Regions from separate parts of the Homo sapiens genome. Here all the other regions are linked to region 1. The links come from fine-mapping of genetic effects on gene expression. A gene starts in region 1. Each other region holds a variant in brackets. All regions are shown on one strand. Distances are between the middles of the regions. Region 1 holds the start of MMP1 (matrix metallopeptidase 1). Region 2 holds the start of MMP3 (matrix metallopeptidase 3). Region 3 overlaps MMP12 (matrix metallopeptidase 12).

Region 1 (2,766 bases):
GAATGTCAGAGGTGTGACATTACTCCAGAGTTGGAAGGCTTTCTCAATGGCATGGTCCACATCTGCTCTTGGCAAATCTGGCGTGTAATTTTCAATCCTTAGAATGAAACAAAATAGAGACACATTGGACATGACTTCTTACCACTGTCATGGGAAATAGCTCTCTCACTCTGGCCCTCAGTCTGCCTACCTGTAGGTCAGATGTGTTTGCTCCCAGCGAGGGTTCCCCTCAGTGAGGACAAACTGAGCCACATCAGGCACTCCACATCTGGGCTGCTTCATCACCTTCAGGGTTTCAGCATCTGGTTTCCCAGTCACTTTCAGCCCAAAGAATTCCTGCATTTGCTTCAATTTTTCAACCACTGGGCCACTATTTCTCCGCTTTTCAACTTGCCTCCCATCATTCTTCAGGTTGTAGTATTTTTCCAGGTATTTCTGACAAAAGAAAATTATCGAAACACTGCATGGGAAATCTTTCTCATTATTCTAAAAATTGATGGCATTAAGTTTTAGCCAAAACAGAGAACTGCTTTTAAACCTTGTGTTTAGATTTCGCAGTTGCTTTTATCCTTATTTTTGGTGAGAAATGAAATTTCAGAGTAGAAATGTCCCTACTATTAGTTATTGTGAAGTAAGAACTTCATAGTAGAGCAATTTTTGTAGAGCAAGATTTGCATACTGTTACAAGTCTACAATTTGTGGAGACAAGTTTGGATGTTGTTCCTTTAGTTCACTCTCACCTCCAACTGGAAAAAGAGAGCGTATGCATGGCTAGATACATTTTGGGTGGAGGGTGCTGTTTCTAGCAAAAAAAAAAAAAATCTCTTTATAAGAAACCTATCCTTAAAAAACTCTATTACATTACTGCAGAAAAATACAAACTAAAAATTTACATTATTGTCACATGCAATGCAGCATTTACCTGGACTAAGTCCACATCTTGCTCTTGTGTTTCTAGAGTCGCTGGGAAGCTGTGAGACACCACACCCCAGAACAGCAGCAGCAGCAGTGGAGGAAAGCTGTGCATACTGGCCTTTGTCTTCTTTCTCAGTGCAAGGTAAGTGATGGCTTCCCAGCCTCTTGCTGCTCCAATATCCCAGCTAGGAAGCTCCCTCTGTATATATAGAGTCCTTGCCCTTCCAGAAAGCCAGAGGCTGTCTGACTCATGCTTTATAACATCCTCTTGATTAGCTATGAATAGACTAGGCAATCATTAGAAATGGTGACTCCTAGCAGATTATTTGGAATCACTTGGTGTTGCAATGTCATGATTAACTTCAAACAAGATGTGTGCGAAGGAGACACACTCTGCCATGTAAACAGTGGTTTTCTCCAATTCATTTCTTTCCTATTTGAGAAAGGTTCTTGTTATATACACAGGTCAAAGAGTACTCCATGGTCTTTTTGAAAAAGACTGGTTCTGATGGTCATAAAGTGCTACAGGTTTCTCCACACACCTTGCTCCCAGGGCAGAGGGTGGAATTACTAACACTGCGCACCTGATGGCTGTTCGGCACCTGTACTGACTGAAGTTCAGCTCCCCCAGCACTCACTTTACGGTGGCTCTTCGGGGTTCTCTGAGGTTCCCTTCTGCCTTTGTTAAGCTGCCTGGTACCCTATTGCGATAGCACCATGGCTTCCCTTAATCTTTACTCAGAGCCAGGCATGGTGGCTCAAGCCTATAATCCCAGAATTTCAGGAGGCCGAGGCAGGGGAATCACTTGAGCCCAGGAGTTCAAGATCAGCCTGGGCAACATGGTGAGACCCCATCTCTGTAAAAAACAAACAAACAAACAAACATTTTTTAAAGTTAGCCAAGCATGGAGTCATGCACCTGTAGTCCTAGTCACTGAAGAGGCTGAGGTGGGAGGATCACTTGGGCCTGGGAGGTTGAGGCTGCATTGAGCTGTGATTGTGCCGCTGCACTCCAGCCTAGGCAACAGAGAGGGACCCTGTCTAAAATAAAATTTGAAAAAATTTACTCAGGCCTAGGATTTAAGAGCCTTACCTGAGAAGACCCCTCATCCACAGGCGGAGTATGAGATAACTCCCCACCCCTTGCCCATCATTATCATGGGACAAATAGGATCCTTCCCTGAAACTTGTCTGAATGTACCGGATGATGAAAAGGCTGGAAAGAGACTGAGCGTGACTCTGGGGTCTTATTTTTAATCATACTTGTTTCCCTTGATATGAGTCTATCTTCGCTCCTTGGTGCTAGGCAGCATTTATTTATTCTTTCATGTATGCATTCATTCATATATTTATGCATTCCTCCATTCAAAAGATCTTATTTAGCATCTCCTGCCCATTAAAATAAATACATGGCTCTGTAATGAAAGATGTGTATTCCTGTACTTATGTTCCACATTAAATTGTCTTGGGTACTGGTGACCGGTGTCACCAGTGCTATCTGTAGCATTCCTGGTAAGAAAAGTTGGTTTATCTCTGTAGCTCCCCTACTCATGCCCCACTCTCCTTCCTTGGAAGCATTTATTGAAAACATACAGTGGAGAAACACTGGCCTGTTTTATCACTTCAGCACCTTATGGTGTCTCCCACCTTTCCCACTGTATCAGGTTTGCTTTTCAACACTTTCCTCCCCTTATGGATTCCTGTTTTCTTTCTGCGTCAAGACTGATATCTTACTCATAAACAATACTTCAGTATATCTTGGATTGATTTGAGATAAGTCATATCCTTTCTAATTATTTAACTACAATTTCCTCATCTAAGTGGCATAACATGTGAGTTCAAGAGGGTAAG
Region 2 (2,766 bases), 45 kb after region 1:
ATACAGTTATGAACTGAGAAACATTCTTCTACCTAAACAGTTTGAACGTTGTATTTGGGAGTTAGTCTTTTCCTTCAGAACAAGCCCATAAAAATTCTTTTAACCTAAAAGTACTAAAATAATGCCTCAGCCAGAAAAAAAAAAAAAAGAGAATCTCAGTTTCTGAAATTTAATTCTTATTTCTGGTTTGAAGAGTAAAGAAGTAAATGGAGGAAATTACATAAGTAACATCCAGAGCACATTTTAATGTAGATTCAGTGCAATATACTATCCCTTGAATGTTTGTATTTTGATATGAGAAATTTTTCTTAATAATGGTTACCCCTAGATCACAAAGATCCAGTCATTAAAGAAATACTTAATGATATTTCCTATATTGTGCTTACCAATATAGGAAAACTGTTAAAGCATCTGAAAATATTTTCAATAATAATTAAAACAAAAATATATTCTGCTGATCTCTGATCCACTGGAAAATCCAGAACATCTCATTTCTTGAGCATTCTTGGTTATTAACAGATTTCTACATATAAAAAAATTAATGCCAAAATCATTCTGAGAGATGTGTAACTAACCTGTTGTATCCTTTGTCCATTGTTCATCATCATCAAAGTGGGCATCTCCATTAATCCCTGGCCCAGGGGCATAGGCATGGGCCAAAACATTTCCAGGTCCATCAAAAGGGTAAAAGTCTCCATGTTCTAGTAGGAAAAAAATTTATTGGAAAGATATGTAACAAGGATCCCTTTTGAGCCTTTTCCAGTACAACAACACCAGATAGATGAATGGATACATTTCATGTGTTTTTTGTTTTGTTTTGTTTTGCTTTTTTTTTTTTTTTTTTTTTTTTACCTCTAACTGCAAAAGAGATCATTATATCAGCCTCTCCTTCATACAGCCTGGAGAATGTGAGTGGAGTCACCTCTTCCCAGACTTTCAGAGCTTTCTCAACAGCAGAATCAACAGCATCTTTTGGCAAATCTGGTGTATAATTCACAATCCTGTAGGAGAAAAATTGAAGCAGATGCTATTTTCTCCTATGATATAGTTTATAAAATTCCAATCTTATGTGAAAACCCCTCTGAACCATTACCTGTATGTAAGGTGGGTTTTCCTCCACTTCGGGATGCCAGGAAAGGTTCTGAAGTGACCAACATCAGGAACTCCACACCTGGGCTTGCGCATCACCTCCAGAGTGTCGGAGTCCAGCTTCCCCGTCACCTCCAATCCAAGGAACTTCTGCATTTCTCGGATTTTTTTAACAACAGGACCACTGTCCTTTCTCCTAACAAACTGTTTCACATCTTTTTTGAGGTCGTAGTAGTTTTCTAGATATTTCTAACAGAATAAGTATAGTTTTTAGGTCACTCTTACAATTTTTACTATAGCTATCTATTTATAGTAAGTTTTTGCAGTTGCTCACTTCTTAATCTATTTGGAGTATTTCTCTAGCTTGCTGAAATAATGGCAAATTTTATAATATGATACTAGCAACACAAATATTTAGCTAAAATTACGTTGCAT[T/TA]AAAAAAAAAACTGAAGCTGTTCCAAAGCAAGATATGGTTCATCCACTCTCCACTTGTTACTCATGTGCCTTAAGCCCCAGTGCTGCTACTGCTATGGTGTTGTGTGATCTTAAGAAAACACCTAATATTTCTGGCCTTTGTTTCTTCCTACATAAGAGGAGAAGCCCAAATGGTGTGATAATGAGACCTTTTCCACTTCCAACACTCTATAACTCTCTATTCTTGAACTGTTCCTACACAGTAAGCTCAAGCATTCTATGTGGGTTTTAAGACACACAGAATGGTTTCAGCTTACTCTGGAAGCTCCCCACCTGGCCAGGTCAGTTAGTGTTAATTACCTGAACAAGGTTCATGCTGGTGTCCTCACCCCTTGCAGCTCCATCCAATGGATAGGCTGAGCAAACTGCCACGCACAGCAACAGTAGGATTGGAAGACTCTTCATTTCCACTGGCTTTACTTAGCTCTATGTTGTCTCTATGCCTTGCTGTCTTGCCTGCCTCCTTGTAGGTCCAACCTCGGGAGCGCAGCTTTTAAAGAGTGACAGTGTTTGTTTGGATCACCCGCAGCTTGACTCATCCTTGCTTTCATCCAAATGGCAGCAGGACCATTTCCAAACATTCCAAATTCAAAGTAGGATGATACAACCTACTTTACTAATTTCTCTCAACCTTCCCAATTTTGCAAGGCAACACAGTGATTAATCTCCAGGAAGTGCTTCCTGTCTTGGTAGAGGAGAAAACTGGAGCATTTTTTTTCTTCTGGAAAAATTGACTGGAATTCACTAGACAATTTATGTTTGTCCTTTTGAGAGAAGAAGTAGGTTGACTTGGTAAAAATCAGAATTGTGCAGAACTTCTAAAAGCAGTTTTATTTTAAGAAACACATTATAAAAGCAAATAAAAGATGTAAGTGGAAAGTGTACATACATAGCTATAGTCTATACTATATACAATTATACTCAAAACATAAAAGATAATATCTAGAAGAAATTTAGAAGGGGTGATTTATTTTTCTGAATCTGATTTGTAATGCCTGCTATTGACTGTCGTTGGATTTGCTGGTTCTTGAGGAGGAAAACCTCATGGGCAGAATAGAACAAAGAGGGTCTGTGAAAAAGAAGGAAGTATATTCCCTTTGGGTTGGTTTTAATTCTGTAACCAATTTATTAATGGGTGATGGGCCCACGTAGCTGCTCCATAAATAGTTGTAGAATTGAAATGAATTACATTGCTTACCGGAC
Region 3 (2,766 bases), 74 kb after region 1:
TTCTCTGTAACTTTTTCTTTCTTGCTCACTATGAATCTAAGAAATTGTCAGCATATTATGAATCATACAGATGACCATCTTATCCTCTAATTGTTGGCACACACAGAATTAGTATGTGTTTGCTTTTGAGCTTATGGATTTCACTAGGTCAAAAACTTATCACCTAGGCTGCCTGCAATCTTAACACTTTGGGAGGCTGGGACAGGAGGATCTCGAGGCAACATAGCAAGATCCTGTCCCTATAAAAAATTAAAAAATTAGCCGGGTGGGTAGCGCACACCTGTGGTCCTAGCTACTAGGGAGGTTGAAGTGGGAGGTTTGCTTGAGCACAGGAGTTCCGGGCTGTAGTAAGTTAGCATCATGATACGTGATGCCAGCCTAAGTGACAGAGCAAGACCTTGTCTCAAAAAAAAAAACTTACCACCTAATTAACAGCTTTTACCTTTTCATATTATGCTTCTTAAGGTTCCTCTGAGCTTATGCTAATGAACTAGCTCATAGTTCATAGCATCCTCATAGATTGTTAGAGCTGATCTTCAAGATGATCTAGTTTAATATCCTCAATTTACAGAGAGTAAAATTGAGACCCATACGAAGTGTTAAATTTGATTTAGAGGCAAAATTATAATCAGAACAAGATTTTCCATCATATAATCATTTGTCAGAATGTAGTCTCTCGAAACCAGAATTTTGAATTTGTTAGGGTTTTTGTTGTTTTCCTTTCCTGTTTGCTTAGTTTTTTGTTTGTTTGTTTGTTTGTTTTGCCCACCTCCTGAATGTGTAGTCCAGAATTCGTCCTCATCGAAATGTGCATCCCCTCCAATGCCAGATCCAGGTCCAAAAGCATGGGCTAGGATTCCACCTTTGCCATCAAAAGCATGGAAGTCTCCATGAGCTTTTGGAAAAGGAAAGAAAATTAGTCCTTCTATACATCCTATAGATCATGCCAAATGACAAAGATGAAATACAAGTTCCCTACCTCCACGGGCAAAAACCACCAAAATGTCAGCCATGCCTGTGTTAATCTTGCTGAATTTCAAGGGGGTAACATTACTCCATACTTGGAAAGCTTTCCGGATTGCGTAGTCAACATCCTCACGGTTCATGTCAGGTGTGTAATTATTGATTCTTTATCAGCAAAAAGAGAGAGAAAAATGTATGGAAGGCAGTGTTATTTTGTCTTACCACAATACTTCATTTTTGCTAGCACAATTGGAAAATGGATCATTTCATAAATCAAGAGTCCAGATTTTAAAACTTGCTTCATTAACTACAGAAACATTTTTTCTTGGACAGCCTCCTCCTTAACCAAAATCTAACTTAATTTCTTCCTATTTAAAACTCACAGATCATCACTGTGAAGGATTTGCTTTCATAGAAGGTTATGCTTTTTGCT[C/T]CTGCTCCCAGGTTCTGCATTTATCCATCTTGACTACTCTATAAACTTCCCTGTCTCTTCTTTATAGTAAATTATCTTATTTATAGTAAATTTAGCTTCATTCTCCTTTTATTTGCAGATTTTTTTTTCTTTTTTTTTGAGATGGAGTCTCACTTTGTTACTTAGGCTGGAGTGCAGTGGCACGATCTCGGCTCACTGCAAGCTCCGCCTCCTGGGTTCACGCCATTCTCCTGCCTCAGCCTCCTGAGTAGCTGGGACTACAGGTGCGCGCCACCACGCCCAGCTAATTTTTTTGTGTGTTTAGTAAAGACGAGGTTTCACCATGTTGGCCAGGATGGTCTCCATCTCCTGACCTCGTGATCCACCCACCTTGGCCTCCCAAAGTGCTGGGATTACAGGCGTGAGCCACCGTGCCTGGCCTATTTGCAGCTTTTAAAATCTGCTTTGGACTGGCAAGCCAAACAATTCTCCCCTGAGTGAACAATTCTTCCTTCTAGAGAAAATGAATTTTAGCAGAGATAGCATTAACAATGGAGGGAGGTTACTTTATCTACTTCCAGATTTAGGGCTGTCTAACTGGTTCAGGTTAGAAGTCAGACCTATGGGAAAGTAGAAAAATACAGGGCGACATACACCAACGTTACCTGTAGGTGATATAATGTTTCCTCCATACGGGCCCCCCTGGCATTTCCCTGAAATGATGGACATCGGGGACTCCACATCGAGGTGCGTGCATCATCTCCAGGGTAGATGTGTCCAGTTGCCCGGTCACTTTCAGACCCAAGAAGTGCTGCATTTCTTGGATTTTTTCCTTCATTAAGTTTCCACTATATTTCATTTTTGTCACTGGAAGTTTGTTTATCTCAAGGCCATAAAATTTTTCTAAGTATCTCTGGAAAAAAAAATACATTCAGCAATGTGTAAGTACACACAGAAAATTTCTGTTGGGAGCTCCACATATATGACTCAATTGCACACTGATGCTTTTGGACCAGGAATTTTGCACATCTTACTCACAGGTTAGATTATTGTTTTTTGGACAATTAATTATAATCAGGAAAAAAAACCTTAATTTTTTGTGCTATCAAAGACATGTCAGCCAGGAGCAGTAGCTCAGGCCTGTAATCCCAGCATTTCGGGAGGCTGAGGCAGGAGGATTTCTTGAGCCCAGGAGTTCAAGACTAGCCTGGACAACATGGCGAAACCTCCTCTGTACAAAAAACACAAAAATTATCCCAGAGCGTTGGTGCATGCCTGTAGTCCCAGCTACTCAGGAGGCTGAGGTGAGAGGATCACTTGAGCTTGGGAGGTAGAAGCTGCAGTGAGCCGTGATTGTACCACTGCACTCCAGCCTGGATGACAGACACAGA

What was found. PIP is the estimated chance that this variant, and not a neighbour inherited with it, causes the effect. A credible set is the group of variants that fine-mapping cannot tell apart.
Region 2: its variant is the best candidate, but not a certain one, in a credible set for the expression of MMP1 in whole blood (INTERVAL, PIP 0.68).
Region 3: its variant is the best candidate, but not a certain one, in a credible set for the expression of MMP1 in gastroesophageal junction (GTEx, PIP 0.80).

Annotation. Positions count from the first base shown.
Region 1 is chr11:102,797,066-102,799,831 of GRCh38, forward strand. MMP1 (matrix metallopeptidase 1) reads right to left here and starts at 1,095. Exons shown (of 10, transcript NM_002421.4): 1 at 923-1,095; 2 at 191-435; 3 at 1-97. The coding sequence starts at 1,027. It also overlaps the pseudogene WTAPP1.
Region 2 is chr11:102,841,579-102,844,344 of GRCh38, forward strand. It overlaps MMP3 (matrix metallopeptidase 3), which reads right to left and starts at 2,031. Exons shown (of 10, transcript NM_002422.5): 1 at 1,864-2,031; 2 at 1,094-1,338; 3 at 853-1,001; 4 at 576-701. The coding sequence starts at 1,968. The variant T/TA (reference allele first, on the strand shown) is at 1,525.
Region 3 is chr11:102,870,825-102,873,590 of GRCh38, forward strand. It overlaps MMP12 (matrix metallopeptidase 12), which reads right to left. Exons shown (of 10, transcript NM_002426.6): 2 at 2,041-2,288; 3 at 980-1,128; 4 at 770-895. Among named protein-coding and RNA genes, the nearest start is that of MMP12, 2.8 kb to the right of the region's middle. The variant C/T (reference allele first, on the strand shown) is at 1,397.